Linked DNA regions of Homo sapiens. The protein of the gene in region 3 purifies or fractionates together with the protein of the main gene of each other region. This does not show direct contact. Each region holds a gene or a part of one and is shown on either strand. Other genes may lie near its edges. The genes, in order: DCAF11, DTL, COPS5 and DDB2.

Region 1 (7,347 bases), on a different chromosome or scaffold from region 3:
CTTCAAAGTTTAGGAGATAAGACCTATCTGGCCCTTAGAGTCTCTTCACCAAGCCCCATACTCACTGAGATATCACTCGAGACTGTTCTCCAAGGGAGAAGCTTCCCCGATGGCAGAGGCCCCGTTCTCTCTAAATGGAAGGGATTGGGGAATATTGCTAGCAGAAATAGAGGGCCACTTCAGCCATATCAAGCCCCCTCCTCCAAAGATATTGCTCTTGTTATAGAAATGGACACACACATCATAGTCTGTCCCACAGAACTCCGATGGAGGCTGGTTAACTCTCCAGCCCCAGCGCTTGAGGCTTCTACTTTGGAAAGTTGACTTCCTTTTTCTCTGGGGCTGGCAGAGCTTCTGGCTGCTTTGGCAGGCCTGCTGCCAGGCTGGGAGGTGGAGAGGCCTACCTGGTGCAACATTCGAGGAAAGCTGTGCTTCTGGGCGGCCCGCCTAAGCCCCAGCTGCCCTGTGGCCAGTTCCACTTGTGTCTTGATCTCATTGAATTCCAGCTCCCGGGTGTCAGGGGTAGCATCCACTGTGAGTACCAAGGAGAAGTTTCATCCTAGGTCTGCCAGCCTCAGAGGACAGTTAGCAGAACTGTACCCAAGCCCACCCCTGTGGCTGAATATACTGGGGCTGTAAGGACTCCTTATTCCTTAAATTATCGTACCTTCTTTCAATGTAACCTATCATTCAAAATATCACTAAAAGGTTTTCTAGTAAAAGTCTTCCAACATTAGGGGCTTTTCCTCTTACCAGGTGGGTTGTATCGATCCCCAAGACGACCATCCCAAGCTCTGTCATTCTCTTCCTCTGAGTCCAAGAGGGCCTGAATGAATTGTAAATTTGCTGCACCTCCTCCCTGCACCAACCTCACTTGGCCTCTGTGGAGAGACCCCCATTATAAAGGAGGGGACTTCTTCCCCCAAACCAACCAAATTCAGAGTCAATGGCTATCTAGCTCTTAGACCACTTGGTACTCATTTTGAGGTTTGAGGCTGACTAGACCTTGGCTGTTATTTTTGGTCTCCTATAAAACACAGTAGGAAAGAGAGTTTTACTCTTACAGCAAGAGCAAGACCAACATGCTGTGGACGTGACCTACTAAGTTGACCTCCCAGCGAGCTAAACATTCTAACATCATTTCCTTAGAACAAGAGCAAGACCAATACGCTGTGGACATGACCTACTAAGTTGACCTCCCAACAAGCTAAACATCCTCACAGCATTTCCTTCTGAGCCTCTGCCTGAGAAGTCCACCACAGAAGACAATATTCTAAGCTGGGTGCGGTGGTGTGTGCAACTGTAGTCTTAGCTACCTGGGAGGCAAGGATTGCTTGAGCCCAGGAGTTGCAGGCTGTGGTGTGCACTTGATCACACCTGTGAATAGCCCGTTCTCCAGACTGGGGAACACAGTGAGCCCTGTCTATGTCTACTAAAAACAACACAAAACACAAACAAAAAAGAATACAATATTCTGAAGGGACCCCCAAACCCATCTTCTCCTCAAAGAGCCATAAGCAAAGAAAGAAAGCCAGCTGCACCCTTTTCCAGTCAATTCCAGGTGGTCTCTCCCTTCAAGGCATTCTTTCCTCAAGAACAGGTTAGAGTCAGGGCAAATTAAACTTGTTTTTCAAGTAAATCGAAGTGGCCTCATATCATGTGTCAACTGCCTTACTAAAAAGTTCAACACTCCCTTCCCATCTCTTCACCCCTTACATCACTCCTTTCCCACTAGGACCCCCCCCTTTTTTTTTTCAAGCTTACTTGGAAAATAGACTATATTTGTGTAGTCACAGAGACAGGCTCCCTTGAATAGCCCCTCAAACACATGAGCAGGTCCTCTTGGTGACCCTCCCTAGGTAAGAACCACTCTTACTGGGTATGGAGCTGAGTGCCATGGGTGCCCAGCAGGGAAAGGCTGTTCAGCTCAAACAGAACAGCTGTCCTGAGCGAATCCCATTTCCTAACCTCTGTAATTTTCCTGCCTGGAGTTGGGATCAAGGCACTGTGGTAGCACCTGCTGGGGGTCACACCAGAGGGTAAGTTACCTGCGGAGGAGATAGGCCAGTACCTGGGCCAGATCCACATCTTCATCCTCTTCTTCCTCTTCCTCACTCCGACGCAGGCCAGCCCCTCTTCGGGGCAAGCCCTCGGAGGGGTCTCCGGACCCGGATCCTGCACTGCTGCTGTTCCGCGATCCCATCTTCTGGTCACAGCATTCTTAGGTCCTGTGCGGGGGCTCCTCCTGTCACCTCCTTGGGTTTGGTGAAAGCAAAGCGTGCTCTAGAAATACCAGGGTCTCCTGAGACGGGGTAGTAGCTATCTCTAGGAGGGTGACCCTTCCTCGGGGCTGAGATCCCTTTTCTTTAGCCTATGCCAACTACCAAGGCGTCGGGAACACAAACCTTCTCCAATCCTGTGAAGCAAAGAAAGCAAGAGTGAACCGTAGTGCGCTACCCTAGCTCACCAACTGAAGAAAGATTTGTTTTCTACACCAAACTCACCTATCGAAGTCCCCGGACTGGGGAGCGGGAGGGGTGTTGGGCGGTGTTGGATTTCCAGGTAACCTCTCTGACCGACCAATCGAAATCCCTCTCGGAAGAAAGCGCTTCACTAGCTTATCTCATCTAACCAATTAGAAGCCTTAGGACTCAAAGACCCTCGACGCCCCCACCTTATCGACCAATCAGAGCGCCCCCTTACAAAGGCCGGCAGCAGTGACAGCCAATGAAAATAGAATTTGGCCTAACACCCCTCCTTCCTCGCCTCACGCCCACGTGGTGCGCCGGGGGTGTGTACGCCATGAGGGGGAGGAAGCCGAGAAGCACCTCCCACTGAAGCCGGCGGTAACCGCCCCACGCGAGACCACCCACCAGCCAGGAGCGGTCGCAGGACCCGCAGCGGCGCGAGGCCTTGTTTACACCGACTGCCGCCACTGCGTTGGCCAACCGCTCCTCCGTCACGCGCTTCGCTCGTCACGCATCTCGCGGCTTCCTGGCCGGCGGGCTGCAAACGTCACACGACGGCCCCGCCCCCTTGGCCAGCCAACTGGACAGCGGAGCACGATGATTGATAGGTAGGCGGGAGAATGCGCGAGGTGCCTGAGGGGAGGAGAAAGTGCACACCCAAGGAGGGCTGTTAGCTCTTGCTGGGGAGGAGTAAGTGGGAACTGCCAGCTTCCTGAATCAGAGACAGCCGAACTAGGCGTAACGGCTGAGAGGCGGGGCTTAAAAAAGAAACGTTTGGTGGTTCGCTACCGAGAGGTATTTTAGCAAGGGATATAATTTACTGTCTGTCCCTAAAGATCATTTGGCATCGCACTTTTCAGACAGTGCCCAAGGGCCTCCTTTCTCCCCACTGCTTCCCCTGTCCAGCTGGAGCCGTTCTTCTGTCGCTGGCCGCAGCTCCAGTCGGTTCTGCCCTAAGGGGTGCCCAGCGTCCCAGTAGACCTCCATACCGTCCTTCCGGGCTTAGCTTTTGGAAGCCTTGCTCTTGGGACGGTCCCCTTTTAGACCTCCCTTTATCCGGTCTGACAATTTTTTAAGACAATCCCTGGCTTTCCGCCGCGGTCTTTGCAGACGTTCCCTAATACACGCGTCTTTCTGTCAAAGCTTTTCCGGTTCCGCTGTCCCCTTTGACGCTCCCTTGGCCCTCCGGGATTTGCAGACCTTCGCTAGTCCCTCTGTCCTCGCGGTGCCTCTCCGCCCCCGGCCGCGGGTCCAGGGTGCGCGCTCGCCGCCTCCTGCCCCCTCCTGCCCCCTCCTGCGGGTTTATGAGTAACAAGCCTGAGTCCAAGGCCGGGAGTTGCCACATCTCTGATCCTCGCCCTGGCTGGGTGGGGACGTGTGGGTTGAATGACCTTGCTGTCTCGGGCTCAGAGGCTCAGGGTCCGAGCTGAACTTCATTCCCTGCAGCCTGCACTTCCTTGGGAAAGCTGCGAGCTTCCCTCCGCCCGCTCCTGAGGGCAGGGATGGGAGCGAGGGCTCGTGGCCTTCTTGGGCCCTCCTGGGGCCTCTCCCAGTGAGGGCGAGGGTTTGGCCAGCTTTCGGGCGACGTCTCCTAGTCTCTAGATCCGGAGACCTGAGCTTGTCACCAGGGCTAGCTTTGATGGCCTCTGCGCTTAGAAGGGTCCTGAATGTTTGGTTTAATGTTCTAGTGTTAACGGTCTTGAAATTATTAGTAATTTTAAAGCAAGTGCCTGGTATTTTCATCTTGCACTCGGCTCCACTGATTATGTAGGCGGTCTGCTGGGCGCCCATCCTCTATTGCCAGATTACTTACTATCTGTGCTTTAACGTTTATTGAGACTTTAGGATTCCGTGGTTTCTGGGTTATCCAGCCTGGAAAATCGGGATCTTTATTTATTGATTGATTTTACCTGCGTTCTCCCAGAATGTGACGGAATCATTTTTTTTTTTTATTATACTCTAAGTTTTAGGGTACATGTGCACATTGTGCAGGTTAGTTACATATGTATACATGTGCCATGCTGGTGCGCTGCACCACTAACGTGTCATCTAGCATTAGGTATATCTCCCAATGCTATCCCTCCCCCCTCCCCCGACCCCACCACAGTCCCCAGAGTGTGATATTCCCCTTCCTGTGTCCATGTGATCTCATTGTTCAATTCCCACCTATGAGTGAGAATATGCGGTGTTTGGTTTTTTGTTCTTGCGATAGTTTACTGAGAATGATGGTTTCCAATTTCATCCATGTCCCTACAAAGGACATGAACTCATCATTTTTTATGGCTGCATAGTATTCCATGGTGTATATGTGCCACATTTTCTTAATCCAGTCTATCATTGTTGGACATTTGGGTTGGTTCCAAGTCTTTGCTATTGTGAATAGTGCCGCAATAAACATACGTGTGCATGTGTCTTTATAGCAGCATGATTTATAGTCCTTTGGGTATATACCCAGTAATGGGATGGCTGGGTCAAATGGTATTTCTAGTTCTAGATCCCTGAGGAATCGCCACACTGACTTCCACAATGGTTGAACTAGTTTACAGTCCCACCAACAGTGTAAAAGTGTTCCTATTTCTCCACATCCTCTCCAGCACCTGTTGTTTCCTGACTTTTTAATGATTGCCATTCTAACTGGTGTGAGATGATATCTCATAGTGGTTTTGATTTGCATTTCTCTGATGGCCAGTGATGATGAGCATTTCTTCATGTGTTTTTTGGCTGCATAAATGTCTGCTTTTGAGAAGTGTCTGTTCATGTCCTTCGCCCACTTTTTGATGGGGTTGTTTGTTTTTTTCTTGTAAATTTGTTTGAGTTCATTGTAGATTCTGGATATTAGCCCTTTGTCAGATGAGTAGGTTGCGAAAATTTTCTCCCATGTTGTAGGTTGCCTGTTCACTCTGATGGTAGTTTCTTTTGCTGTGCAGAAGCTCTTTAGTTTAATTAGATCCCATTTGTCATCCTCCCTAACTCATTTTATGAGGCCAGCATCATTCTGATACCAAAGCCGGGCAGAGACACAACCAAAAAAGAGAATTTTAGACCAATATCCTTGATGAACATTGATGCAAAAATCCTCAATAAAATACTGGCAAACCGAATCCAGCAGCACATCAAAAAGCTTATCGACCATGATCAAGTGGGCTTCATCCCTGGGATGCAAGGCTGGTTCAATATACGCAAATCAATAAATGTAATCCAGCATATAAACAGAGCCAAAGACAAAAACCACATGATTATCTCAATAGATGCAGAAAAAGCCTTTGACAAAATTCAACAACCCTTCATGCTAAAAACTCTCAATAAATTAGGTATTGATGGGACGTATTTCAAAATAATAAGAGCTATCTATGACAAACCCACAGCCAATATCATACTGAATGGGCAAAAACTGGAAGCATTCCCTTTGAAAACTGGCACAAGACAGGGATGCCCTCTCTCACCGCTCCTATTCAACATAGTGTTGGAAGTTCTGGCCAGGGCAATCAGGCAGGAGAAGGAAATAAAGGGTATTCAATTAGGAAAAGAGGAAGTCAAATTGTCCCTGTTTGCAGACGACATGATTGTTTATCTAGAAAACCCCATCGTCTCAGCCCAAAATCTCCTTAAGCTGATAAGCAACTTCAGCAAAGTCTCAGGACGGAATCATTTTTTAAAAAAATTGGCCGGGCGCGGTGGCTCACGCCTGTAATCCCAGCACTTTGGGAGGCCAAGGCGGGTGGATCACCTGAGGTCAGGAGTTCGAGACCAGCCTGGCCAACATGGTGAAACCCCGTCACTAAAAAAAAAAAAGCCGAGTGTGGTGGCATGCGCTTGTAATCCCAGCCACTCGAGAGGCTGAGGCAAGAGAATCGCTTGAACCCGGGAGGTGGAGGTTGCATTGAGCCGAGATCACGCCACTGCACTCCAGCCTGGGCTACAAAAGCGAAACTCCGTCACACACACACAAAAAACAATCAACCAACCAAACAAAAAACACCTATGCCTCTTCCGGTAGTTGATCTGCTGAAGAATCCTCCTCTAACAGCATTTAGTGCTTAACGCACAAGTGAGCTGGGCACGGTGGCTTACGACTGTAATTCCAGCACTGTGGGAGGCCGAGGAGGAGGATCATTTGTGGCCAGGAGTTCAAGGCCAGCCTGGGCAACATAGTGAGACCCAGTCTACAAAAAGAAAAAAAAAATAGCCGGCCATCGTGGCGCGTGCCTATGGTCCCAACTTACTTGGGAAGGATGAAGGAGGGAATCTTGAGCCTATGAGGTGGAGGCTGCAGTGAGCCATGATTGCTCCACTGTACTCCAGCCTGGGGATAGAGCTAAAGACTGTCTCTAAAAGAAAATCAACAAATGGCTCACTATTGTTCATTGTTTCAAATACAAACTTCCAAACCTGGATGTCTATTTTTAGTAACCTCATTTTTTGATATTTCTGCTAAGCAAATATGCCAATAAATAGCTTGTTTATTTTTACCTCTGCACCTTCCCAGGAGAATTTCTTATTAGAGGGAAGCTGTCTACAAAACTCCCTTCCTCACAGCCTTGCACTTTGACCCAGTAATACTGCTTCCAGAAATCTAGGCCGGACATGCATAAAAATTTATGTTCTACATAGCAATTATTGATAAAAGTGGAACACTGGAAACAAAGATCTAAATATCTTGCAATATGGGATTGTTAAATAAATTATGGTCCATGTAGTATAGACACAGAAATACCAGGTAGCTATTAAAATGGTGTTGTAGTCTTCAATTTTTTTTTAAGGTACCTATTCCTGGTATAGGTTTGTTGTAGCCTTCTATTTTTATACCATAGGAAATTGTGCAAACTACATTGTCAAGTTAAAAAAATAAAGATAATCATTTCTTCTGGTGACATGTAAT
Region 2 (7,022 bases), on a different chromosome or scaffold from region 3:
TAGGTTGTGTTTTTCCATTTGTTTGTGTCATCTGATTTCTTTTAGCAGTGTTTTGTAGTTTTCCTTGTAGAGGTCTTTTACTTCCTTAGTTAGGTATATTCCTAGGTTTTGCAGCTATTGTAAAAGGGGTTGAGTTGTTGATTTGATTTGCAGCTTGTTTGCTGTTGCTGTATAGCAGTACTACTGATTTATGTACATTGATTTTGTATCCTGAAACCTAACAGAATTCATTTATCAGATCTAGGAGCTTTTTGGATGAGTTTTTAGGGTTTTCTAGGTATACAATCATATCATTTACTAACAGTGACAGGTTGACTTCCTCTTTACCAATTTGGATGCCTTTTAATTTCTCTTTTCTGACTGACTGTGGCTGGCTAGGGCTTCCACTACTATGTTGAATAGAAGTGGTGAAAGTGGGCATCCTTGTCTTTTTCCAGTTCTCATGGGGAATGCTTTCAACTTTTCCCCGTTCAGTATAACGTTGGCTGTGGGTTTGTCATGGATGGCTTTTATTACCTTCAAGTATGTTCCTTCTATGCTGATTTTGCTGAGTGTTTTCATCATAAAGGGATGCTGGATTTTGTCAGACGTTTTTTCTGCTTCTATTGAAGTGATCATGTGTTTTCGTTTGTTTTTCTCTTAGAGTTTCGCTCTTGTTGCCCAGGCTGGGGTGCAGTGGTACCATCTCAGCTCACTGCAACCTCCACCACCCAGGTTCAAGGGATTCTCCTGCCTCAGCCTCCCAAGTAGCTGAGATACCACATCTGGCTAATTTTTGTATTTTTAGATGGGGTTTCACCATGTTGGCCAGGCTGGTCTCAAACTCCTGACCTCAAGTGATCTGCCCTCCTCGGCCTCCCAAAGTGCTGGGATTACAGGCATGAGCCACCGCACCCGGCCTGATTTTTGTTTTTAATTCTGTTTATATGGTGTATCACATGTATTGACTTGTGTATATTAAACTTTCCCTGCATCCCTGGTTTGAAATCCATTTGATCATGGTAGATTATCTTTTTGATATACTGTTGGATTTGGTTAGCTAGTATTTTGTTGAGGATTTTTGCATCTATGTTCATCAGGGATATTGGTCTGTAGTTTTCTTTTTTGTCATGTCCTTTCCTGGTTTTGGTATTAGAGTGATACTGGCTTCATAGGATGATTTAGGGAGTATTCCCTCTTTCTCTTTTGGAATGGTTTCAGTAAGATTGGTACCAGTTCTTCTTTGAATGTCTGATAGAATTCAGCAGTGAATCCATCTGGTCCTGGACTTTTTCTTCTTGGCAATTTTTTTATTACCATTTCAATCTAAGTGCTTGTTATTGGTCTGTTCAGAGTTCTTATTTCTTCCTGGTTTAATCTAGGAGGTTGTATATTTCCAGGAATTTATCCATCTCCTCTAGGTTTTCTAGTTTGTGAGCACAAATGTGTTCATAGTAGCCTTGAATGATCTTTTGTATTTCTGTGGTATTCGTTGTTAATATTTCCTGTTTCATTTCTAATTGAACTTATTTGGATCTTCTCTCTTCTTTTCTTGGTTAATCTCACTAATGGGCTATCAATTTTGTTTATCTTTTCAAAGAACCAGCTTTTTGTTTCATTTATCTTTTGTATTTTGTTGTTGTTGTTTCATTTTTATTAAGTTCTACTCTGGTCTTTGTTATATCTTTCCTCCTCCTGGGTTTGGGTTTGGTTTGTTCTTATTTCTCTAGTTCTTGAGGTGTGACCTTAGATTGTCAATTTGTGCTCTTTCAGACTTTTTGATGTAGGCACTTAATGCTGTGAACTTTCCTCTTAGCACTGCTTTTGCTGTATCTTAGAGGTTTTGTTAGGTTGTGTCACTTTTTTCATTCAGTTCAAAGAATTTTTTTAATTTCCAGCTTGATTTTGATTTCATTATTGACCCAAAGATCATTCAGGAGCGGATTATTTAATGTTGCATGGTTCTAAGAATTCCCTTTGGAGTTGACTTCCAATTTTATTCCACTATGGTCTGAGAGAGTACTTGATATAATTTTGATTTTCTTAAATTTATTGAGACTTGTTTTGTGGCCTATCATATGGTCTCTATCTTGGAGAATGTTCCATGAATGTTCTGATGAATAGAATGTATATTCTGCAGTTGTTGGGTAGAATGTTCTGTAAATACCTGTTAAGTCCATTTGTTCTAGGGTATAAGTCCATTGTTTCTATGTTGACTTACTGTATTGAAGTCCCCCACTATGAGATGAGATTCTATTTTTGTGTATTTCAAGGTTTTGCTCTAAGATTTAGAACTCCTTTTAGCAGTTTTTGTAAACTATGCTGGCTTGGTAGTGGCAAATTCTCTCAGCGTTTGAAAAAGACTTTCATCTTTTCTTCATTTATGAAGCTTAGTTTCACTGGATACAAAATTCTTGGCTGATAATTATTTTGTCAGCTAATAATTATTTAATAAGGCTAAAGATAAGACCTTTATCCCCTCTAGCTTGTAGAGTATCTGCTGTTAATCTGATAGGTTTTTCCTTTACAGGTTACCTGATGCTTTTGCCTCCCAGCTCTTAAGATTTTTTCCTTCATCTTGACTTTAGATAGCCTGATGACTGTGTGTCTAGGTGATGATCTTTTTGTGATGAATTTCCTGGGTGTTCTTTGAGCTTCTTGTATTTGGATGTCTAGATCTCGAGCAAGGCCAGAGAAGTTTTTATTCTTTTGCCTTTGTCTTTGTTGAATTGGGTTAATTCAAGAGCCTTGTCTTTGAGCTCCAAAATTCTTTCTTCTACTTGTTTGGTTCTATTGTTAAAACTTTCCAGTGTATTTTGCATTTCTCTAAATGTGTCTTTCATTTCCAGAAGTCATGATTGTTTTTTATTTATGATATCTATTTCTCTGGAGATTTTTTTCGTCTACATCCTGTTTTGTTTTATTTTTAAATTTAAGTTGGTTTTCATCTTTCTCTGGTGCTTCCTTGAGTAGCTTAATAATTGACCTTCTAAATTCTTTTCTGGCAATTCAAAGATTTATTATTGGTTTGGATCCATTGCTGGTAAGCTAGTATAATCTTTTAGGGGTGGTTATAGAACCTTGTTTTGTCATATTACCTGAATTGTTTTTCTGGTTCCTTCTCGTTTGGGTGGACTATGTCAGAAGAAAGATCTGGGACTCAATGTGTGCTGTTTAAATTCTTTTGTCCCACAGAGTGATCCCTTGGTGTGGTGCTCTCCCCCTTCCCTAGGGGTGGGGCTTTCTGAGAGCTGGACTGCAGTGATTGTTATTGCTCTTCTGGGTCGAGCCACCCAGCAGAGCTACTGGGTTCTAGGCTGGTACTGGAGAGTGTCTGCTAAGAGTCCTGTGATGTGATCTGTCTTCAGGTCTGTATGCCATGGATACTAGCACCTGCTCTAATGGAGGTGGTAGGAAAGGAGTGAAGTGGACTGTGTGAGAGTACTTGGTTGTAGTTTTATTTAGTGTACTGGTTGTCTTGAATGCTAGTTATACTAGCACTGAAGTTATTACATGGACAGACTCAGGACCTCTCTGGTTGGCCAAGATGTTACAGGCAGTAGAATTAGCTGTTATTTTCTGCTTTCTTGGAGCAGGGTTGTTCTGTTGAATTGCTGTAATGGCTTGAATTGGTTGGCCTCCAGCCAGGAGGTGGCACTTTCAAGAGAGTATCAACTGCAGTAGTATAGCGGGGGATATAAGCTTGCCTTACGGTTTCCTGGATAGGTTTTCGGGCTTCTCAGGCAATGAGCAGGGCCCCACGAGTTTTTGTCTTTTGTTTACGGCTACCAGGGCGGTTAGAGAAAGACCATCTGGTGGGGGCAGGGATAGTGTGTCTGAGCTCAGACTCCTTGGGCAGGGCTTGCTGTGGCCTCTGGGCGATGGGAGTGGTGGTTAACAGGCCAATGGAGTTACGTTCTAAGGGAGATTATGGCTGCCTCTGCTGCTTCATACACATCACCAGGGAAATAGGGGAAAGCCGGCAGTGACAGACCACAGCCAGCAAGGCCAGTCTCACTCCTGCAGTGCTTCCCCAACAGCCAACAGAACCAAATTTATATCCATGCCTCCAGTGCACAGGGTGGAGATCTTGCCCTAGACTACAAAACTCCCCGCCGAGAAAGCAAGCAGGGCTGTTAGGCCTTGTCCATCTGCCTGCCACAGCTTCTGTGCTCATATCTGCACTTCCTATTTGTCCCATCCCCCTGCAGATTCTGCCCAGGAAAATTCACGCTCAGTTGAAATCATTACAAAGTTCAGCTGAAAGTCTCCTTCTCCCTATGGTCCTTCCCCAATTCCATTGGCTGCCCTCTCCAAAGACCCCTGTGAGATAGTCAGAAATGGTTTCCCTGGGGACCAGGAGTGCCTACAGGGCTCTTCCTGCTGCTGCTTCTACTTTTATATTTTGTTTGGCTCTCTAAATTCATTTCAGTTCTCCTTCTCCCATGATCTGGATCCTCAGTGAGGATGTGTGCAGAAGTGGACTTTACCCCTCTCACACTGTTTTTTGTTTGTTTGTTTGTTTGTTTGTTTGTTTTGAAACGGAGTCTCGCTGTCAGGCAGGCTGGAGTGCAGTGCATGCGATCTTGGCTCACTGCAACTTCCACCTCCCAGGTTCAAGCAACTCTTCTGCCTCAGCCTCCTGAGTAGCTGGGACTACAGGTGCACACCACCATGCCTGGCTAATTTTTGTATTTTTAGTAGAGACAGGGTTTCACCATGTTGGCCAGGCTAGTGTTGAACTCCTGACCTCAAGTGATCCACCCACCTCGGCCTCCCATAGTGCTGGGATTACAGGCATGAGCCACCACACCCAGCCACCCTCTCACACTTTGGACCTTGAGAGCTTGTTTGGAGGTTCTAGCAGGGGAGCACATTTACTCGTATACCCTTGACTGAAGACCGATTCTCCTCTTATCAGGAATGGTTGTCCTCTTCGACCAAGCACACAGCTTCGGGAGCCCTCTCACACTTTGGGCACTCAATTTTTCTGCTGTCTTGTGGATTTTGCAGCAGCAAGCCACTTCTTTCAAAGGATCTGTTAATTCTTTTGTTTTTTCTGGTATGTTCCTGTGATAGTTCTTGGAGCCAAAGTTCACTATGTGAGTCTCCACATGCTGTTCTGTCTGTCTGAGTGGCAAATTAGTCCTGCCTCCTATCTGCCACTTTCCCCTTAAATCAGTCTCATTTTTGTAAAGAAAAAAGTTGAGATGTATAGTATGTATCACATGCACAAATATAGAAAGTATGCTAAACATGGTTTACGTAAGTGCTTTAAATTTTTTCTCTTTATGTTTTTCGGTATTTTGTCGATTTTTACAAGTATATATTTTATAATGGGATAGTTGGGAGGTTGGTGACTTGGAAAAGAGAAAGGAAAATGATAAAAGGGTGTGGTTGGAATCAAGTGATGTATACCTACTTACTGGCAAATTGACCCTTAGATGATTAGGTTAGCTATGATTTTTCTTGATGAGAATTTAGGGACTTTGTATGGCTTTCACTTCTGATCTTCATGATCCTCTCCTCTTTTTCAGTAACAGTAACGAGTAGCCAGAGTACTCCTGCCAAAGCCCCCAGGGCAAAGTGCAATCCATCCAATTCTTCCCCGTCATCCGCAGCTTGTGCCCCAAGCTGTGCTGGAGACCTCCCTCTTCCTTCAAATACTCCTACGTTCTCTATTAAAACCTCTCCTGCCAAGGCCCGGTCTCCCATCAACAGAAGAGGCTCTGTCTCCTCCGTCTCTCCCAAGCCACCTTCATCTTTCAAGATGTCGATTAGAAACTGGGTGACCCGAACACCTTCCTCATCACCACCCATCACTCCACCTGCTTCGGAGACCAAGATCATGTCTCCGAGAAAAGCCCTTATTCCTGTGAGCCAGAAGTCATCCCAAGCAGAGGCTTGCTCTGAGTCTAGAAATAGAGTAAAGAGGAGGCTAGACTCAAGCTGTCTGGAGAGTGTGAAACAAAAGTGTGTGAAGAGTTGTAACTGTGTGACTGAGCTTGATGGCCAAGTTGAAAATCTTCATTTGGATCTGTGCTGCCTTGCTGGTAACCAGGAAGACCTTAGTAAGGACTCTCTAGGTCCTACCAAATCAAGCAAAATTGAAGGAGCTGGTACCAGTATCTCAGAGCCTCCGTCTCCTATCAGTCCGTATGCTTCAGAAAGCTGTGGAACGCTACCTCTTCCTTTGAGACCTTGTGGAGAAGGGTCTGAAATGGTAGGCAAAGAGAATAGTTCCCCAGAGAATAAAAACTGGTTGTTGGCCATGGCAGCCAAACGGAAGGCTGAGAATCCATCTCCACGAAGTCCGTCATCCCAGACACCCAATTCCAGGAGACAGAGCGGAAAGAAATTGCCAAGCCCGGTAAGTCAGCAGTGGTGGGAAGATACATTTCCTAACTTAAAAGGGGCCAGACACCCAGATGTCTCAAGTCAGGATGCTTTTTTTTTTTTTTAAAGAAAGAAATCTATTTATTCCTAGTGCTGCCAAATTCAGCACATAAATACAAAACAAATTTTGCATGGGCCATATTTTTAGTAAAAATGTTTTATGCTAAGAAACTATTTTTGTTTGTCTGAAATTCAAATGTAACTGAATGTGCTGTATTTTATCTGGCAACTCTACTTACTCCCATTAAAATCCCTCCTGTCAGGGTCCATACTCCTCAGCCCTGTTGCCTGATTGACCAAAGCCTTCATCATGCTCCAGGATATCAATTCAAAAATATCTCCCCTCTCCTGTTAGACAGTATGCCATCCTCTTTTTATAGATAAAGCTGTTGTTCATGGGAAAGTTGCCAACATCCATAAGTAGATTTCCAGTTTGTAATTCCATTTTGTGATTATTTAAAATACAGTGAAACTTAGATACTTACAAAACAATTTGAGTGCAAAATCTTTCTAGATTTTTATGACTTCTCCACAATCTTTTATAATCATTTTGCCACACCACAGTAATACTTTTGACACCTATATCTATTCTTTTTAACATTCAGTGTAGTGTCACTTATCTTTTTAGGACTCATTTCATTGACTGA
Region 3 (7,022 bases):
CCTACCAACTAAGGGTTAGAGATAATAAGTATTCTTCATATAGAGGAGCTCAAGCTAGAACTGCCTGAGAAGCCTCAGGGAAAAGGCAAGGTGTAGGGTAAACATTTTTGAGTCTATGGTATGGATATGTGGAGAGCAAGGAGGGCATTAGGCAGAGAGCATCAACACACAAAAAGGAAAGACATGTAAGAGATAATAAGGCAATGGGTTTAGCTGGAAAATTTAGCAAGAGAAGAATTATGTGAGGGGAAGCTAGAAAGCTATGCTGGGGTCTAGGTGGTGAAGGATGTTACACAAAAGGTTAAGAATTTTTTTTTTTTTTTTGAGACAGAGTCTTGCTTGGTCACCCAGGCTGGAGTGCAATGGCACAATCTCAGCTCACCACAACCTCTGCTTCCCGGGTTCAAGCGATTCTCCTGCCTCAGCCTCCCGAGTAGCTGGGACTACAGGCTCCCTCCACCATGCCCAGCTAATTTTTGTATTTTTGGTAGAGATGGGGTTTCACAATGTTGGTCAGGCTGGTCTTGAACTCCCAACCTCAGGTGATCTGCCCGCCTTGGCGTCCCAAAGTGCTGGGAGCCACAGTGCTCGGCCAAACTTTGGGAGACGGAGGCAGAAGAATCGCTTGAACCCGGGAGGCAGAGGTTGAAGTGAGCCGAGATCGCGCCACTGCACTCCAGCCTGGGCAACAAGAGCAAGACTCTGTCTTAAAAAAAAAAAAAAAAAGAAATTTAAACTTTATCCTGTAGATACCCGGGACTCTTGGAAGGTGCTTGAGTAGAATGGAAGGTACTTGAGTAGAGTAATAATACAGTCAAAGGGGTGTTTTATAGTACCATTAGGAGATATTACAGGAGAGAAACTGGAGGCAGGGATTCCACAAAGGAAGCCACTGCAGCAGGGAAGATGAGAAGAGACAGAGGTTCAGACTCAGAGGTTAGTGGTGCGAAAGATAAAGACACATAGGCACCCTTTTAAAAACAGAATGCTTTTTCTGAGCCGCAATCTCACTCTGTCACTTAGGCTGGAGTGCAGTTGTGCTATCTGGGCTCACTGCAACGTTTGCCTCCCAGGTTCAAGTGATCGTTCTGCCATAGCCTCCCGAGTAGCTGGGATTACAGGCGCCCACCACCATGCCCAGCTAATTTTTTGTATTTTTAGCAGAGACAGGGTTTCACCATGTTGTCCAGGCTGGTCTCGAACTCCTGACCTCAAGTGATCCACCGCCTCAGACTCCCAAAGTGCAAAAATGCTTACGGATTAAAGTTTAGCGTGAGGAAATAAAACATAATAAATTAAACACATCATGCTGGGCGTGTTGGCTCACGCCTATAATCCCAGCACTTTGGGAGGCTGAGGCAGGTGGATCACCTGAGGTCAGGAGTTCGAGACCAGCATGGCCAACATGGTGAAACCCTGTCTCTACTAAAAATACAAAAATTAGCTGGGTGTGGTGGTGTGTGCTTGTAATCCCAGCTACTCGGGAGGCTGAGGCAGGAGAATCGCTTGAACCTGGGAGGCGGAGGTTGCAGTGAGCCGAGATGGCACCACTGTACTCCAGCCTGGGTGACAGAGTGAGACTCCATCACACACACACACAAAGAACATTTTTGGGCCGGGCACGGTGGCTCACGCCTGTAATCCCAGCACTTTGGGAGGCTGAGGCGGGCAGATCACGAGGTCATGAGATTGAGACCATCCTGGCTAAGACGGTGAAACCCCATCTCTACTAAAAATACAAAAAATTAGTCGAGCATGATGGTGGGCGCCTGTAGTTCCAGCTACTCGGGAGGGTGAGGCAGGATAATGGCGTGAACCTGGGAGGCAGAGCTTGCAGTGAGCCGAGATCACACCACTGCACTCCAGCCTGGGTGACAGAGCAAGACTCCATTTAAAAAAAAAAAAAAAAAAAGAACATTTTAGCAATTCCAGGTTCAAAATTCTAGTCTTTAGCAATGTAGGCCGCTAGCAAAGTAGCTATCCCTCTTTGGTAGGCTCATATTTCAGAGTGGCAAGGTAAGGTGTTTGCCAAAAGAAAGTTATTTAAGGATTGGTACGCAACACGATCTTAAAAAAAAAAGTTATTTAAGGAAGACAGAAGGATAAACTAACGGAATAGACAAACAGGGAAAGTAGATCTGTTTGAATACGGAAAACATAAACTGTCTCAATCTTTTTTTGTTTTGAAGTATAAACCTTTGATACAACTCAATATAAATAAAAAAAATTGAGAGTTCCTCTGAAGATTAAAGTATCACAGCAAAGGTATTTCCAGGCTTAGGAGCAATTCTCTCAAACAGGAATCATTTAAATTCTTTTTAATAGGGCAAATTAAATAATTAACACTAAACTTCTATCTGAATATATATTTGTTTCTATAGCTGGGCACAGTGGTGTGCCTGTAGTCCCTGGGCAACCTAGTGAGACTCCATCTGAAATAAAAAAACAGGAACCAAAAAAAAGGAAGAAAAGAGAATTGTATTTACAGAAATATGTCAGAGATTATTGAAAACCACATATATTTAAGAATTTAATTTTAGAAATTCTAGAATTTTCTAAGAACTTCTAAATAGAAAAATTAGAGCAGTAGTAGCACATGGGTAGCCAAAGTATTCTTTGAAGTTGGCATAAGTGGTACAGAAAAAGAGGGCAGTAGATAATCATTTATTCATTTAAGCAGCAATTTTTTTTGGTGCCCTCTTCTATGTGGCATGCCCTGTTTTAAATCCAAGGATACAGCAGTAAATTTGTGTTCACATTCTAAAGGGGTCAAAAAAAAGATGTCAAAACATATCAGATGGTTACAGTGCTAAGAAGAAAAAGCGGGGAAAGAGGAAACAGAGGTGTTACTTTACATAGGTAAAATACTACACCATGATCATGCCTAATGAACTAATGAACATTTTCTGTTAGCACGACCCTGTAAACAGATACTCAATGCTTAAAGCAGTTAGTGAGCCACATGGAAATAAGAGCGTTCTAGGCAGAGGGAACAGCAAGTGCCAGTGCTCTGAGCCATGAGCCTGCTGGCACATTTTACAAACCATAAGGAAGTCAATATGGCTGGATTGCAGACCAGCAGAAGTTCAGTGATAGGACATGAGCTCACAGAGGCTGTAGGAGCCAGACCACACAGAGGTGTGCAGTCTGTGATAAGGACTAAGGATCTTGTTCTTGGTAAGATGGGAAGTCATTCTGAAAAGGAAGAGGATTATCCGGCTTACATCTTAACAGAATCAGTCTGGCTGAAAACAGAGCTTTAAGAAGTGAAGGGCACAAGTAGAAAGACTCGCCGGAAGGCAAGTGCTTGATTGGGGCTCCAGATGGCAGTGGCTTGGGTGAAAAGGATAGTAAAAGAGGTGGTGAGATATATTTAGAAGGTAGAGAAAACTGTCCCCATTGGCTTCTTTAACATTAAAATAATTTAAGATATAATTCATACATCATAAAATTCACCATCAAAAAAGGTACGTAGGCCGGGCACAGTGGCTCACACCTGTAATCCCAGCACTTTGGGAGGCCGAGGCGGGTGGATCACGAGGTCAGGAGTTTGAGACCAGCCTGGCCAACACGGTGAAACCCTGTCTCTACTAAAAATACAAAAATTAGCTAGGTGTGGTGGCACACACCTATAATCCCAGCTACTTGGGAGGCTGAGGCAGGAGAATTGCTTGAACCTAGGAGGCGGAGGTTGCAGTGAGCCAAGATCACGCCACTGCACTCCAGCCTGGGCAACAGAGCAAGACTATGTCTTGGGGGTGGGGGGAGGGTATGTAATACAGTGGTTTTTAGTAAGAATTCTTACACTTTTATAACTTTGACTTTTTAATATGGCTTCTTTAGTCTTTCAAATCTTTCAAAGATTAGAAAGAATCTTTGTTCAGTAGAAATTATATATTTTGAGGGCTGCAGACATGCTAGTGTCAGCTGGTCCTGAACCCATCTTTCACTTGTTATAATTTTATGTAGGCCAAATATCTTGTACATTAGAAAAAGTTTAGGTTGTTTAAAAGGCAAATGACATGCTAGTTTGAAACATTAATAAAAAATGCAAAAGAAAAAAATTTAAAAATGCAAACATTTACCTAAATTCATATACTATTATTGTAAAAGCTATCATGAAATGCATTTTGTCTATGCCTTTTGTCTCATCTGTAAAATAAGGGGCTTGGACTGGTTGATATCTAAGGTTTCTTTAGGCCTCCTGAGTGCTGGGACTACAGGACTGTGCCACTTCATCTGGCTAACTTTTATAACATTTTTTGTAGAGATGGGGTCTCACTATGTTGCCCAGGCTAGTGTCGAATTCCTGTCCTCAAGCAATCCTCTCACTGTGGCTTCCCAAAGTGCTGGGATTATAGGTGTGAGTCACCGTGCCTGGCCCAGATATGTTTTTAAATTACTTACTGTTTGCAGTGTACACCAAAATCTTCTATTTTATTAAGTGGAATAGTCTGGTACTCAGAAGGTCCTTCATCAGGAGGTTTGTAGCCCTAAACAAAAATGAGGTAAACAGAAGATTAAGAAAAAAAAAAAAAAAAATATATATATATATATATATATATATATATATATATATATATATATATATATATATATAAAAATGAGAAAAACATGTTTTCTATGGAGCTTTCTAATAATAGGATTATTAACTTTCGGAGGCAAATATTTAACATGAGCATTCTAATAAAAAAAAAATACTGTTTCTACTTTCCCCCCACCCAGTTTGGTGGCTGTAGGCTGGATTTTGCTTACAGATTTATTTTTCTTCTCCTTAGGTGATGTACTTTTGTTCTAATAACTATTTCAGATTGCGGCCTCCTGCCAGGGAAGGAAATAGACCTATAGATTTAGCTTGTTTTTTCTCTAGTACCTGGCAGAATGCCACAGGCACACAGATACTTATTAATAAATAAAGACTGCTTTTCCAGTAAAATTAACAATATATAACATAAATGTATTACCCTTTGCTAGGGACAGCTTGTGGTAGTTTACTATTTTGTAAATATTATTGAATTGTTTTAATAACAAGAGATATTGCTAATGTCTTTAATAATAAGTCAAATATTTGGAATTTAAAAAATGTAAGGACTTATAATTTTAAAAATTACTAAGCATTCCTACCGTCCCAGCTACTTGGGAGGCTGAGTTGGCTTGAGCCTAGGCGATGAAGGCTGTAGTACACTATGATCATGCCTGTGAATAGCCACTGTACTCCAGCCTAGGTAACACAGTGAGACTCTAACTCTTAAAAAAAAAAAAAGTTACCTTTGGGTATGTCCTAAAGGCGCCAAGATTCACTTTCCCTGCGGATATTGTTCTTGTTGGATCAATCTATAAGAAAGATATATTTAATATCTGCTGATATAAAACTGTATGCCTTTTATTTAAACATTATAAACCTAGAAATGTATACATACATATAACACTATATACATACATAATAACCAAATAAGAATAAACCAAAAAACCATAAAAGTTCAGTAAGAGGGTAATATAAGTGTCTCACAGCTAACTTAGAGATTCAAATTATTATAACATTTAAGAATATTATTTGAAGGTTTGCTCATCTATTTTTAAAAAGTTTTCTTTTGTCCTTTTAAGAGGTGAATAACTCCTACCTTCCTCATAAAACCTGGATTGCACTTAAAACACCCTGAACATAATAAGAGCTGCTCTAGCAATTCCTGCTTAACTCAGTTCAGTCAACACTGATTGAATGCCTATGATGAGCTGGCACTGAGACATAGATGCTATGACTACCCACAATTTACAGAGGGGAGAAGCAAGATACACAGTGGTTAAATAATTTGCTCAAAGTCCCAGCTTCTAAGAGATGGAATTCACATTGAAACCTAGGCAGACTGATACCAGAGCAATTTCTCTTTACTACACTATTCTTATTTCTCAGTATACTTGCTTCAGCAAATCTTCATAAAGAACTTAATTAAACTGGTTTTAAAATTCTTACCACCACTGCTACAAATGGTTCCTGGAACTGCTGATTGAGCATCTGAGTACTAACATCAATCCCAGAAAGCCAGCAGCCATAGCCAGGGTGGCTATGATACCACCCGATTGCATTTTCAAGGCGGCCAACCTAACAAATGAAGGGGCAAAAAAGTTTAAGATTACTCTTTAATTAATTTACAAGGTACCAGTACAATAAGGGTAACCAGTCTCCTTCCCATCTCCTTCTCCTCAATTACCCACTTTTCTCAGCCCAGATGCGAAATCTATGGGCAATTGCTTACCCTTACAGAGATATTCTTTGTATACAGAATACATATTCTTTGCACATACATAGATTGATAAAAACACACACAATAGCATACCACATAACATAATAATGTTTTACACTTTGTTTTTTCACTCAATAAACTGCTTTGGAGTTTGCTTCATATAAATCATCAATATATATGATGGTTATCTTTTTATTTTTTTTTCTTTTAAAGGCTGCCTGGCAGTCCACTGATGGATATACCATAATTTATTTAGCCAGTTTTATACTCAGGAACTGAGTTAGGTTGTTTCCAAATTTTTTATTTTAAACACGTATCTGATAATAAGTGTGAGAGTTTATTTAAAAAAAAAATAAAATCCATGCCATAGACCGGGTGCAGTGGCTCATGCCTGTAATCCCAGCACTTTGGGAGGCTGAGGTGGTGGATCACCTGAGGACAGGAGTTTGGGACCAGCCAGGCCAACACAGAGAAAACCCGTCTCTACTAAAAATAGAAAAATTATCCAGGCCTACTGGTGCACGCCTGTAGTCCCAGCTACTCAGGAGGCTGAGGAGGGAGAATTGCTTCAGCCCAGGAGATGGAGGTTGCAGTGAGCTGAGATCACGCCACTGCACTCCAGCCTGGGCAACAGAGTGAGTCCCTGTCTCGAAAAAAAAAAAACAACAACAACAAAAAACAAAAAAAACCATGCTATAAGTCTTATCAGGCTTTTAATCTCGTACATTTTACATATAAATCATTAAAATTTAAATATAAAATTTCATGTAAAGGGGATAA
Region 4 (7,712 bases), on a different chromosome or scaffold from region 3:
AAACAGCTGGTGTGGCTACAGCATAGAAGTGAGAAAAGACAATGGCGTAAGATGAGGTCAATGTGGTAAGAAGGGGCTTCAATTCTTTTTTTTTGAGATGGAGTCTCGCTCTGTTGCCCAGGCTGGAGTGCAGTGGCGTGATTTCGGCTCACTGCAACCTTCGCCTCCCGGGTTCAAGCGATTCTCCTGCCTCAGTGTCCCAAGTAGCTGGGACTACAGGCGCACACCACCACATCCAGCTAATTTTTTGTATCTTTAGTAGAGACGGGGTTTCACCATGTTGGCCAGGATGGTCTCCATCTCTTGACCTCGTGGTCAGCCCACCTTGGCCTCCCAAAGTGCTAGGATTACAGGCCTGAGCCACTGCGCCCAGCCCAGAAGGGGCTTCAATTCTATGGGTGATCAATAGTCTATATCTTCTAGTATTTTAAGGACAGGCATTAGAAAAATATATATCATCATCATTTACGTATTTGAAAATGCCCACAGTTAATTTTGATCCCAGTCCTCTTCCTGATGATTACTGGATGACATCAATATTCCTTTCATGCCTTCAACAAACACTCCTTATTTTTATTTTCTTTTATTATTATTATTATTATTATTTTGAGATGGAGTTTCACTCTTGTTGCCCAGGCTGGAGTGTAATGGTGCAATCTTGGCTCACTGCAACCTCTGCCTCCCGGGTTCAAGCAATTCTCCTGCCTCAGCCTCCTGAGTAGCTGGGATTATAGGCGCCTGCCACCACACCCAGCTAATTTTTGTATTTTTAGTAGAGACGGGGTTTCACCATGTTGGCCAGGCTGGTCTCAAACTCCATACCTCAGGTGATCCACCCACCTTGGCCTCCCAAAGTGCTGGGATTACAGGTGCGAACCACTGCACCCAGCCAACAAACACTTCTTTAGCACGACCTGGCATGGGGAACTGCTCACCCCTTTGATGAAGGTGGGTTTGTCCTTGATGCCAAAATTCCAGAGCATGATATCTCCCCCTTTGGAACCCACAGCCACGGTGCTGGGGTGAGTTGGGTGCCACGCCAAGGATGTAGCCCTCCTGTCAAAGGGGGCAGCCTTTTGTAATATCCGGTAAGAATCCAGAGTGTGCAAAAAGGACTGCTGGAGCCCCTGCCACAGAGAGAAATGAATTAGGTTGAATTAAAACCCAAGTTCTGGGTAAACTGCCAATCTCTGCCTCCTTCATGGATGAGCCCTAGATCCAAGTCCTCCCACCAAAGGAAAGCTAACTGCCTGCCCTGTGCATGAAAATATTTGCAATGTACACGAACGAATAATCTTGGAAAGCAAAAGGGGCAGAGTGCATTCCAGCTGGGACCTTTACAACATAAGACATTTTTTACCTGGCTGAGTGCCCAGTAGGCCAGTCACCACAGTCTGGGTGATCGGACCACTCTGACAAGCTGGTGAACCAAGCCATCATCTAATTTGGGAGCATGCAATAGTAAAAATGCACGTGTAAACCCTTGAGGACTTGAGGCAAAAAATGCCTTACCTGCTGGACAGATGGCCAGGAAGCTCTGCCCAGCTTATGCTGGTGGAGGGTCCTGACGATGCTGCGGCATGGTGGCAGGATCTGTGGGCCAGCCAGCCCCACCCAGAGGCAGTCTGAGTCACATCTTCTGCTAGGACCTGCCAAGCAGAACAGACATATTTTCCTCTCCAATCTCACGAAAGGTTTTTCTGCTGAATTCCCCGAAAGGAAGCCTTGTTTCATTCGGCACGGTTAATCTCTGTCTCATCACCTCCTGCGGCCTTTCCATGTCTGTGTGGTCTCAACGAGCACCAGAAATAAAAAAATGAGTGAGGATTTGGCCCCTTCCCCAAAACACTCCCACAAACAGTAAGTCTGAAGTGAAAGTAAATACAGTCGTGCAGGGTTCCTGAGACCCCAGCCAAAGAAACACACAAGGATAAAGTACAATGCAGAACTCTTCCCAGTTTGGGCTGCAAAACTCGAGATGGGACTGGGTCACAATTTTATAAATCACATATAATGCACAATAAAAAGATTTTAGGGCAGCATGGCAGAAGTCACCGTTTAGGAAAAGAAGGAATAGGAAGGCCTGGAAATGCTCTTAACTAGGTTACTTCTGGGGAGGTAAGTGAAATTAGAATAGCAATAAAGCAACAACTCCTGATCACCAAACTGTATTTGAGGACCCAATCACTATAGGTCCGACGTCTTGACAACCAATTCTTTCTTCTCATGGACAAAAACCACTTGATTAACAAGCCCCAGCTCGTTTTTGAGTGTCTCGAAACTCCTTATAGCCCCAGGTTCAAGCCCCAGTAAACCTCAGAGAATGAGCTTTCTAAGGAGGAAGGAATTGGGGGCTCTCACAACTGACCACCGAGGACGTGCAGCTAACAAGCGTGACTATGAAATCCAGCACACACAGCGCCAGGAAAGGTAGGATTCTCTGAAGCCGTCCTAACTGTGCAAGAACCCTGATACGAACAAGGAATCTGACAAGTCCGTGTGTCTGTTGTTACGGAGCTCATCTGCTTCCTGTTACCTAGCGGGAGAGGTGTTGAAACCTAAACACTCTGGTGTCAAAGGACCTGCAGGTAGAATGCACAGCCGGAGGCACCCGTGACCTGCGCGGGCCTCGGGAGCCTCGGAGCACCCATCCCCCGCTGCAGCCTCCTGCGCGAGCACCCTAAAAGGCGGAAATATTCAAGCAGCAGGCACAGGCAGTACCGGAGCCCTTCGCACAGAGCTTCTTGGCCTCGGGCTCCAGCTCCAGGGGACTCCTGCTCCTCTTGTTCCTGGGGCGTAATACAATCTCGGAGGTCTTCTGGGTTTCTGGGCGTTTCTTGGGAGCCATCGCGTCCTCCGTGTGAAGGGGTACTGTGCTCTATGCGAAGATCATGGAGGGAGGATTGAGAGGCCTCTGGGGAGAAACAAGGCGGGGACTACAAAACTGCGGGGCCACAGGTAGCCGAGCTAAGCCAACTTCCCGCCAAACATGCCCAGGGCTTGTTCAAACCAGCTTGGAGCTCCGGCCCCACCCGTCTCGGAGACCCCGCCCCTTCCTGGAAGGCGGGGGCGCGGGGAGGGGGTGGTGCCAAGGGGCGGTGCCAGCGCTCCCGGGAGGGGCGGGAACTGCGCCAGGGCCAGTGCCAGCCCGGGTCAGCTGACCTCCCTGGAGCAAAGATGGTCCCCGGCTTTATGGATTTTTTTTTTTTTTTTAGCAACAGGGTCTGGCTCTGTCGCTCACTCTGGAGGGCAGTGGGGCGATCATAGCTCAGTGCAGCCTCCACCTCCTGGGCTCAAGCGATCCTCCCACCTCAGCCTCCTAAGTAGATGGGACTACAAGCGTACGCCACCACGCCCGGCTAATTTCTCTCTCTCTCTCTCTTTTTTTCTTTTTCTGGAGAGACGGGGTCTCGCTTTGTTGTCCGGGCCGGTCTTTAACTCCTGGGCTTAAGCGATCATCCAGCCTTGACTTCCTGACACGAACCCTCCTCAAACGCGGCGCTGCCAGGCCTCTGCGGGTCCGGGGAGGAGGCCCGGTGCCAGCCAAGGCTCTGTCTCCCGCCTTGCAATTGGTGATGACGCCCGCTCGGGCTTTGGGATTGGCTGGTCCCTACAGGGTGTAGTTGGGGAGTGGCGGCTTTGTAGAGAGCTAGTGCCTTTCCTAAGTTAGAAGCTGGGCTCTACCAGCGGTCAGCTTTGCAGTCGGATTCCAGAAACTACAGTCCCATCGAATCCAAGCTGCTTCTCTGTGAAGGGAGAATGATTGGAACTCCTTGCCTTTTTTTTTTTTTTTTTTTTTTTTTCCTAGAGGCAGTGTCTCTCTTCCGTTACCCAGGCTGGAGTGCAGTGATGTAATCACAGCTCACTGCAGCCTTGACCTCAAGTTTCACTGATCCTCCCACCTCAGCCTCCCAAGTAGGCTTGCAGACCTGTATCCCCAAGCCTAATTTTTTTATTTTTATTTTTGTAGAGACAAGGTCTTGCTATGTTTCCCACGTTGGTCTGGACCTCCTGGGCTCAAGTGATCCTCCTGCCTCTGCCTCCCAAAGTGCTGGGATTACAGGCATGAGCCACCGTGTCTGGTTCTCACTGCTCTTTTATTTGTTTGGTCGTTGGCTGTTTTTATTTTTTCTTTCTTTCTTTCTCTCTTTCTTTTTTTTTTTTTTTTTTTTGAGACAGGGCCTCTCTCTGTCACCCAGGCTGGAGTGCAGTGGCAGGATGTGGGCTCAATGCAGGCTGGACTTCCTGGACATCGATCCTCCCACCTCAGCCTCCCGAGTAGCTGGGACTACAGGTGCGCGCCGCAACACTCAGCTAATTTTTGCATTTTTTGTAGAGACAGAGTCTCCCTAAGTTGCCTAGGCTGGTCTAGAACTCCTGGCATCCATCCACCTCGGTCTGCCAAAGTGCTGAGATTACAGGTGTGAGCCACTGTGCCCAGCCTCCTCACTGCTTTTTTTTTTTTTTTTTTTTTGAGACGGAGTCTCACTCTGTTGCCCAGGCCGGAGTGCAGTGGCACAATCTCGGCTCACTGCAATCTCCGCCTCCCGGGTTCAAGCGATTCCCCTGCCTCAGTCTCCGGAGCAGCTGGGACTAGAGGCACACACCACCACGCCTGACTAATTTTTTGTATTTTAGTAGAGACAGGGTTTCACCATGTTGGCCAGGATGGTCTCGATCTTCTGACCTTGTGATCTGCCTGCCTCGGCCTCCCAAAATGCTGGGATTATAGGCGTGAGCCACCATGCCCAGCCTCTTGGCCTCTCACTGCTTTTAACTAAGACTTGCCTAACCTGTTGGGTGTCCACCTAGGAGCAGCCTGGGACGTGATGGGCCAGAGGGCGTGCAGCCAGCGGTACTTAGAACTCCTACGCCCTCGCTTCAGCCAAAGTCCAAGTCTTGAAGGTTCACAGGTGAGGCCGCGCTGTCCTGCCTAGCCTGAGAAGAGACAGTTTGGATGCACCCTAGTTTCTGCGAAGAGGCAGGCAGGAGTTGGGCTTACTCAGGCATTGCTGGGCCTTTCCTCCACCCACTAAGCCCCGTGCCTGACAGTTTGTGGGGGTGGGAGGAGATATACAAAAATGCATTAATGGTAGGCCATCGCATTGGCTCAAGCCTGTAATCCCAGCACTTTGGGAGCCTAAGGCAGGTGAATCACTTGAGGCCAGGAGTTCAAGACCAGCCGGGCCAACATGGTGAAACCCTTTCTCTACTAAAAATACCATCAGGCGCAGTGGCTCATGCCTGTAATCCCAGCGCTTTGGGAGGATGAAGCAGGCAGATCACTTGAGGTCAGGAGTTCGAGACTAGCCTGACCAACATGGTGAAACCCCGTCTCTACTAAAAATACAAAAATTAGCTGGGGCGTGGTGGCACTTGCCTGTGGTCCCAGCTACTCAGGAGGCTGAGGTAGGAGAATCGCTTGAACCGAGGAGAGGGAGGCTGCAGTGAGCCAAGATCATGCCACAGCATTCCAGCCTAGGCGACAGAGCAAGACTCCAACTCAAAAAAATAAAAATAAAAATAAATAAATATAAAAAATTAGCTGGGCATCATGGCACGCACCTGTAATCCCAGCTATTCAGGAGGCTGAGGCAGGAGAATCACTTGAACCTGGGAGGCAGAGGTTTCAGTGAGCTGAGATAGCGCCACTGCACTCTAGCCTGGGTTACAGAGTAAGACTCCATCTCAAAATAAACAAACAAAAAATAATAATTTGTTTAATGCATTAATGGTAGATCCTACTCTCAAGGATTTTTCAGACAGATAGGGACAGAAGATGTTACCAAAATCAACTCTTGGTCCAGTGTGGTGGCTCATGCTGGTAATCTCAGCACTTCGAGAGGGCAAGAGGATAGGATCGCTTCAGCCCAGGAGTTGGAGATCAGCCTCAGCAATACTGAGACCCCTGTCTAAAAAATTAGAAAATACACAACTTAGCTAGGTGCGGTAGCACACGCCTGTAGTCCCAGCTACTTGGGAGGCCAAGGCAGGAGGATCGCTTAAGCCCAGGAGTTTGGGACTGCAGTGAGCTACAATTGTGCCACTGCACTCCAGCCCGGATGACAGAGGTTTACCCTGTTTCTAAATAAATAAATAAAAATTGGCCAGGCGCAGTGGCTCACGCCTGTAATTCCAGCACTTTGGGAGGCCGAGGCGGCCGGATCACCTGAGGTCGGGAGTTCGAGACCTGCCTGACCAACATGGAGAAAACCCATCTCTAGTGAAAATACAAAATTAGCAGGGCATGGTGGCACATGCCTGTAATCCCAGCTACTCAGGAGCCTGAGGCAGGACAATCACTTGGACCCAGGAGGCGAAGGTTGCGGTGAGCCAAGATGGCGTGATAGCCCTCCAGCCTGGGCAACAAGAGCAAAACTCTGTCTCAAAAATAAATAAATAAATAAATAAATAAAAATTAAATAAGCTCTTGCAACGGAATGAATGCTCCAAAAGGGAAATTAGAAGGCCGGTTGCGGTGGCTCACGCCTATAATCCCAATAGGAGACCGAGGTGGGCAGATCACCTGAGGCCAGGAGTTTGAGACCCACCTGGCCAACATGGTGAAACCCCTCTCTATTAAAAATACAAAAATTAGCCAGGCATGGGGCACGTGCCGGTCATCCCAGCTACTCAGGAGGCTGAGGCATGAGAATCGCTTGAACCGGGAAGGCAGAGGTTGCAGTAAGCTGAGATCACGGCCAGGCGTGGTGGCTCACGCCTGTAATCCCAGCACTTTGGGAGGCCCAGGCGGGCAGATCACGAGGTCAGGAGATTGAGACCATCCTGGCTAACACGGTGAAACCCTGTCTCTACTAAAAATACAAAAAAAATTAGCCAGGCGTGGTGGCGGGCGCCTGTAGTCCCAGCTACTCGGGAGGCTGAGGCAGGAGAATGGCGTGAACTTGGGAGGCAGAGCTTACAGTGAGCCGAGATCGCGCCACTGCACTCCAGCCTGGGTGACAGAGTGAGACTCCGTCTCAAAAAAAAGAAAAAAAAACACAAAAAGGCTGAGATCACATCACTGCACTCCAGCCTGGACGACAGAGTAAGACTCTGTCTCAAAAAATAAAAAATTAAAAATTAAAAAAAAGAAATGGTTTTGCCTGGGAAAGGGGCAAGCTGGGAGCTTCTCCCCTGCTAGCCTAGAGCTGTGTTTTCAGAGCTGTGTTGCAGAAGCAAACTGTTCGCCCCCTCCCCTTATTCAGACCAACCAACATGCCAACTAAGACCAACCTGTCCTTCAGCAGGGTGCTCAGTTGCAGGGGATATTGAAGTGTAAGAAATGGACTTTGCCTCTAAAAGATTTACAACCTACTGGGAACTGAATAAAAATATATGTGAAACAAGTAAAATACTTCAAGGTAGGTACACATTTGAAGACTAAGTATGCTATGCCCACCAAGGTTTTTGGTTTTTGGTTTTATAGAGACAAGGTCTCACTATGTTGCCCAGACTGGCCTTGAACTCCTGGGCTCAAGCCATCCTCTAGCCTCAGCTTCCCAAATTGCTTTGATTACAGGCATGAACTACCATGCCTGGTCACCAATTAAGATTTTTGGATGCACTCAGGAAAGCTAATTCTATGGAGACAGTAGTACTGTTGTAACGACCCAAGGGGTTCACTTTGCCTGAGCCAACTCATCAAGACAGGGGAATTGCAACAGAGAAAGAGTAATTCACGCAGAGCCAGCTGTGCAGGATACCGGAGT

The links.
Region 1: the proteins of COPS5 (region 3) and DCAF11 purify together in Homo sapiens (affinity purification with mass spectrometry; 6 studies listed by BioGRID and IntAct, with this or other methods). This does not show direct contact.
Region 2: the proteins of COPS5 (region 3) and DTL purify together in Homo sapiens (affinity purification with mass spectrometry; 6 studies listed by BioGRID and IntAct, with this or other methods). This does not show direct contact.
Region 4: the proteins of COPS5 (region 3) and DDB2 purify together in Homo sapiens (affinity purification with mass spectrometry; 12 studies listed by BioGRID and IntAct, with this or other methods). This does not show direct contact.

The regions. Positions count from the first base shown.
Region 1 is NC_000014.9:24,110,451-24,117,797, reverse strand, and holds the start of DCAF11 (DDB1- and CUL4-associated factor 11), read right to left. Parts: upstream 3,022-7,347; 5' UTR 2,505-3,021; exon of another isoform or gene 2,417-2,504; 5' UTR 2,204-2,416; coding exon 2,049-2,203; intron 882-2,048; coding exon 754-881; intron 533-753; coding exon 405-532; intron 131-404; coding exon 66-130; intron 1-65. UniProt on the Homo sapiens protein: May function as a substrate receptor for CUL4-DDB1 E3 ubiquitin-protein ligase complex.
Region 2 is NC_000001.11:212,094,736-212,101,757, forward strand, and holds part of DTL (denticleless protein homolog), read left to right. Parts: intron 1-5,516; coding exon 5,517-6,349; intron 6,350-7,022. UniProt on the Homo sapiens protein: Substrate-specific adapter of a DCX (DDB1-CUL4-X-box) E3 ubiquitin-protein ligase complex required for cell cycle control, DNA damage response and translesion DNA synthesis.
Region 3 is NC_000008.11:67,052,112-67,059,133, forward strand, and holds part of COPS5 (COP9 signalosome complex subunit 5), read right to left. Parts: intron 6,101-7,022; coding exon 5,972-6,100; intron 5,335-5,971; coding exon 5,269-5,334; intron 4,494-5,268; coding exon 4,408-4,493; intron 1-4,407. UniProt on the Homo sapiens protein: Probable protease subunit of the COP9 signalosome complex (CSN), a complex involved in various cellular and developmental processes.
Region 4 is NC_000011.10:47,210,273-47,217,984, reverse strand, and holds the start of DDB2 (DNA damage-binding protein 2), read right to left. Parts: upstream 3,012-7,712; 5' UTR 2,849-3,011; coding exon 2,722-2,848; intron 1,792-2,721; exon of another isoform or gene 1,650-1,791; coding exon 1,513-1,649; intron 1,128-1,512; coding exon 936-1,127; intron 1-935.